Linked DNA regions of Homo sapiens. The protein of the gene in region 1 purifies or fractionates together with the protein of each later gene. This does not show direct contact. Each region holds a gene or a part of one and is shown on either strand. Other genes may lie near its edges.

Region 1 (2,432 bases):
CACACAATCAGCGCGGACCGCAGCGCGGCCCAGCCCCGGGCACCCGCCTCGGACGCTCGGGCGCCAGGAGGCTTCGCTGGAGGGGCTGGGCCAAGGAGATTAAGAAGAAAACGACTTTCTGCAGGAGGAAGAGCCCGCTGCCGAATCCCTGGGAAAAATTCTTTTCCCCCAGTGCCAGCCGGACTGCCCTCGCCTTCCGGGTGTGCCCTGTCCCAGAAGATGGAATGGGGGTGTGGGGGTCCGGCTCTAGGAACGGGCTTTGGGGGCGTCAGGTCTTTCCAAGGTTGGGACCCAAGGATCGGGGGGCCCAGCAGCCCGCACCGATCGAGCCGGACTCTCGGCTCTTCACTGCTCCTCCTGGCCTGCCTAGTTCCCCAGGGCCCGGCACCTCCTGCTGCGAGACCCGGCTCTCAGCCCTGCCTTGCCCCTACCTCAGCGTCTCTTCCACCTGCTGGCCTCCCAGTTTCCCCTCCTGCCAGTCCTTCGCCTGTCCCTTGACGCCCTGCATCCTCCTCCCTGACTCGCAGCCCCATCGGACGCTCTCCCGGGACCGCCGCAGGACCAGTTTCCATAGACTGCGGACTGGGGTCTTCCTCCAGCAGTTACTTGATGCCCCCTCCCCCGACACAGACTCTCAATCTGCCGGTGGTAAGAACCGGTTCTGAGCTGGCGTCTGAGCTGCTGCGGGGTGGAAGTGGGGGGCTGCCCACTCCACTCCTCCCATCCCCTCCCAGCCTCCTCCTCCGGCAGGAACTGAACAGAACCACAAAAAGTCTACATTTATTTAATATGATGGTCTTTGCAAAAAGGAACAAAACAACACAAAAGCCCACCAGGCTGCTGCTTTGTGGAAAGACGGTGTGTGTCGTGTGAAGGCGAAACCCGGTGTACATAACCCCTCCCCCTCCGCCCCGCCCCGCCCGGCCCCGTAGAGTCCCTGTCGCCCGCCGGCCCTGCCTGTAGATACGCCCCGCTGTCTGTGCTGTGAGAGTCGCCGCTCGCTGGGGGGGAAGGGGGGGACACAGCTACACGCCCATTAAAGCACAGCACGTCCTGGGGGAGGGGGGCATTTTTTATGTTACAAAAAAAAATTACGAAAGAAAAGAAATCTCTATGCAAAATGACGAACATGGTCCTGTGGACTCCTCTGGCCTGTTTTGTTGGCTCTTTCTCTGTAATTCCGTGTTTTCGCTTTTTCCTCCCTGCCCCTCTCTCCCTCTGCCCCTCTCTCCTCTCCGCTTCTCTCCCCCTCTGTCTCTGTCTCTCTCCGTCTCTGTCGCTCTTGTCTGTCTGTCTCTGCTCTTTCCTCGGCCTCTCTCCCCAGACCTGGCCCGGCCGCCCTGTCTCCGCAGGCTAGATCCGAGGTGGCAGCTCCAGCCCCCGGGCTCGCCCCCTCGCGGGCGTGCCCCGCGCGCCCCGGGCGGCCGAAGGCCGGGCCGCCCCGTCCCGCCCCGTAGTTGCTCTTTCGGTAGTGGCGATGCGCCCTGCATGTCTCCTCACCCGTGGATCGTGACGACTCGAAATAACAGAAACAAAGTCAATAAAGTGAAAATAAATAAAAATCCTTGAACAAATCCGAAAAGGCTTGGAGTCCTCGCCCAGATCTCTCTCCCCTGCGAGCCCTTTTTATTTGAGAAGGAAAAAGAGAAAAGAGAATCGTTTAAGGGAACCCGGCGCCCAGCCAGGCTCCAGTGGCCCGAACGGGGCGGCGAGGGCGGCGAGGGCGCCGAGGTCCGGCCCATCCCAGTCCTGTGGGGCTGGCCGGGCAGAGACCCCGGACCCAGGCCCAGGCCTAACCTGCTAAATGTCCCCGGACGGTTCTGGTCTCCTCGGCCACTTTCAGTGCGTCGGTTCGTTTTGATTCTTTTTCTTTTGTGCACATAAGAAATAAATAATAATAATAAATAAAGAATAAAATTTTGTATGTCACTCCCCATGGCTCCAAGTTTGTCTCTCCCTGTCTCTGAGATGGGCCTCCCCTCCATTGGTCGATCCCCAAAAGCCCCTTCAATGATCCTCCCAACTACACTCCCGCTGCCACCTCCAACTCCTTTGCCGAGACCCCCTTGGCGGCAGCTGAACCACGGCGAAGGCCGAGACTAGCCTGCCCTTTAGTAGCCACCCTCCCCCACGCACCCCGGCCCTGGGGACAGGAAGTTCTTACTCTCCGAAACTTCAGAATAACTCCTAGTTAGGCGCCTATACTAGGCCAACTCTGTGGTCCTACCAGTACACCCGCACCCAGATTTAGGGTGCTGGCTCTCAGAACCCGAAGTCTGAGGCCTTCTCCACGTGGGTGGAGGGGTGGTCGTCTGTCCTATCTCCTCCCTCCGTTCCCTATCCAGTGCAGTTGCGCGTGGGCGCAGCAGCAATTTTATCCCCGAAGTCTGCAATGAAACGCGAAGACCGCAGACGCTTGCCGCAAGTTTCCT
Region 2 (3,674 bases), on another chromosome or scaffold:
TGGACAGTTATTGCTTACTAACTGGTGCTAGTCTAGTTGAAGCATTCCCGTGATAAATGCTAGGGAAGGCAGCAGAAGCCTCACAACCTAGTGCTAACCAGAGAGCAGTCAATGGCCTCCGTGATCCCTGCCCCATGCCCTGGGGACCTGATAAAGGACATTCTTTTCTTTTCTTCAAGATCCTTTTAAAGTTTGATTCTCTGGATTATCTAATAATTTACTATTTTGGGTTGTGGCAACTTTGCCCAATACAAGGAGTGTCAGAGGTTGAAATCTCCTTTATGCGCACATGTGACATCGATTCCACACTGACTCTTGCAGCTATACTCTTCCTCCTCAATTTTGGCCTCATCTTCCTAAAACACCACGTCTTACTCCCAAATGTGGTATCATTCCAAGCATTAGCTTTCCAACTAGTTCAGAGAGAAATGAAGGAAATTACAGTACCCACAGCAAATAAATAATGAGGCTGAATTCCAACCTTTTAAAAATGTCTTAGCCAGAAAAATGTCTTACGTTAGCCTATCTCAATTCTTATGATTCTTACCACAAAGAGGCAACTGAAGTTTCATCTCAACTACTCCAATTCCCTTCACCAGACCACTAAGCGGGGTGGGACACGGTAAGAACGGGTACCTGAGTAGACTTTCCAGAAAGGAGAGCCGAGGATGCTGGGAGCCATCTTGAATTCTGGTGAAAACAAAGAATCTTTGGTATTCCATAATTCTTACACTAGGCATCTTTCTCTTTTCCTCAAACACAGTTTTATGAATGAATATGAATAGATTGCAACTTGTTATGCTGTGAGCTAAGGAGGTCCACTCTGGTTCAACCCAGCGTGGGTCATTTTAGAAAATGTGCTTAGTCATCTAGCATGAACAAGCTCTCAACCTGTACCCATAGGGAAGTGCCCATGACAGTAATTTCTAGAACTACAGTTTTAAGGCAAGACACACATTAGACACTCTTAATATTTACTGACTAATGATAATATATACAGATTGCATTATGCTCTTCATGGAATCTCCACAAATACTGTTTTATTGTTGTTTCTGTATAAGAATACAAGATTGGGAGGAAATGGTCATTATTAGTATTGTACCCACTATATTGATGAGGACATTAAAAAACCCAGAAGGTGAGTGGGAAGGAAAAGAGGGAGCCTACCCAGCTCTCCTGATTGCTGGCATACTGTTCTTCTCAGTTCTTACTAACTTACTACACCACAAATCTTTCCTTTGCTTAGGATGGCCCTCCATTTATCTAAGCATCTTTTAAGATTTGACTTCAATGTTATTTATACTTTGAAGTCTCTTTTTTTTTTGAGATGGAGTCTTGCTCTGTTGCCCAGGCTGGAGTGCAGTGGCACCATCTTGGCTCACTGCAGCCTCTGCCTCCTGGGTTCAAGTGATTCTCCTGCCTCAGCCTCACAGGTAGCTGGGATTTACAGGCATGTGCCACCACACCTGGCTAATTTTTTTTTGTATTTTTAGTAGAGATGGGGTTTCACCATGTTGGCCAGGCTGATCTTGAATTCCTGAGCTCAAGTGATCTGCCCGCCTTGGCCTCAGAAAGTGCTAGGATTACAGGCGTGAGCCACTGTGCCCGGCCCATCATCTTTTACTTGCTTATTTCCTTGTGTGCCTCTCTTCTGCAGTAGATAACATGCTCTATGAGGACAGGAACCACTGGTCCCAGTGTCTATAGAGGCACTCAGTAAATCCTTGTTTAAAGAGTGAATGAACCTCCACGGTCCCCCCAATACTGAGCTCCTGCAGGAACTTTTACCATTCAGTTAGCATTTAGAATATGTTAACTTGACCCCAAACAGATGAAAAACAACACATGCCTCATCTCCTTCAGGCCATAAATATTCTGACTAAAAGGGCTTCATATCTCTGATCCCCCACTACAGTTTATATGCTCAATGAGTGTTAACTATGAGGATAATATCTTAATACTATTTAATAAGCCTCATTCTGGGACCTTATAATCTAATTCTGATGCAGGTTTTCAAATTATATATCGATAGTAAGCCTCTCTGATTATACCACACATAATACACAAATGAAAGAAGGGATCTTGAGAAAGTTCTACCAATGATCACAAGATGTTTAAAGATGAAACAAGTAAGTTTCATTCCCACAGTGGTCAAAATGCTTACTTTCTTCAATATGACTCCCATGTGTGCACCGGACAGCCCTCTTACCTGCCACATTTCCCTGAGATGCACACAGAGCACATTCATAAAGGGATTCAGATTGGTGGGGCTAACATTGAGATTAATGCAAGAAACATCAGTTTCCCCAGGTATATGTCAAAGCAGACAAGAGATCATAATTTTCTAGGATGTTTTATGAAACCAGCTGGTAGGTCACAGACCTACCTAAAAGAAAATCTGATAAAGGAAAGCAAACATGGCTACAATTATTCATACTTCTACTGTGGGAGTTTCATAAACAAAATAATAAATATTTTTATCTTGCAATAAGATCAAGTTAAGTGATTTGCTGACATTCTCTTGAGGCTTAAGGCTTGTCTTTAATGCGAAATACAAATCATATTTCTCGTGGACACATTTTAATAATAAACTTAAAAGCATATGAGACAAAAATAATGAAAACATTGCAATGAAAACCAGACAAACTATCTACCACTTCAAAAGGAGTGAATGAAGACTGCTCGTCAACACCCTGATGCAAACAACCTCAACACAAAATGCCACATATTGAAATCAGGTTTTATGGAAAGAGAGTCAGCAGGGATGAGAAAAAGCTACTACTTGAAAACAGGTAATTGACCACATGGAAATATACTCACCCAATGCATGCATGTGTGCACGCGCATGTGCGCACACACACACACATTCTGTCTCTCTCTCTCACACACACACACACACAACTTGTAGAACAGATTTGATTTTGGTTCAATTCAAGTTACTTCCCATCTTTCTGCAAAAATCTCACTGGCCAACAAAAAACAGATTTGGTCTCTTTTTGCCTTAGGAAAGGACAAAAAATGTGATGCCAAATCTCTTTGGTCTCTAAAATTCCAAGGCTGCCCCCAAGGGTAAGAAATTGGAACACTCACTGCCTCACGAGTGTTCAGGGGGAGTCCTCATTGTTTCTCATTTTGCTACTTGGGTCCAAAGGCCATGATATAAGCACAACCAAGGGTGCCTGTGGAGCAGCTCACCTCTGGGTCCTGTAATGACAGGTCGGTGATGCTGTGTGAACGCCGTTCCCAGGGAGGAGGTCTGTGAAGGGGAGGGGCTGCTGAAACCAGACTTCTCCGACTTCTTCAGTGTGGTTGGAGATGGCATTCCTGGCAAGAAGGATCAACTGGTAAGTACACTTTAATTCATGGAACAATGATTTGTGCAACCTAAAAGATAACATTTAAAGAATTAAAAACAAACAAAAAGAGAAATCCACCTGTGAATGAAAAAGATGTTGTGAATTGCTTTGCATTTGTCACAGAAACAAAGAGGTGACAGAATAGTCCCCTGATAAGTCGGTCTGTATTTGATTTCAATTTATTCTAATTAATCACAGTCCATTTTTGGGTTATTGGTCTTCAATAATAATACAGGGTTCAACTTTTCCAGTGTTTCCTAAAAGTTGCTGCTTGTGTCTGTGACCTCTGTGACTCCCAAAAAGGAAACCATGTATGCT

What was found.
Region 2: the proteins of PAX2 (region 1) and NFIA purify together in Homo sapiens (co-immunoprecipitation; one large-scale study listed by IntAct). This does not show direct contact.

Annotation. Positions count from the first base shown.
Region 1 is NC_000010.11:100,828,013-100,830,444, forward strand, and holds the end of PAX2 (paired box protein Pax-2), read left to right. Parts: 3' UTR 1-1,932; downstream 1,933-2,432. UniProt on the Homo sapiens protein: Transcription factor that may have a role in kidney cell differentiation. Has a critical role in the development of the urogenital tract, the eyes, and the CNS.
Region 2 is NC_000001.11:61,382,887-61,386,560, reverse strand, and holds part of NFIA (nuclear factor 1 A-type), read right to left. Parts: intron 3,325-3,674; coding exon 3,196-3,324; intron 1-3,195.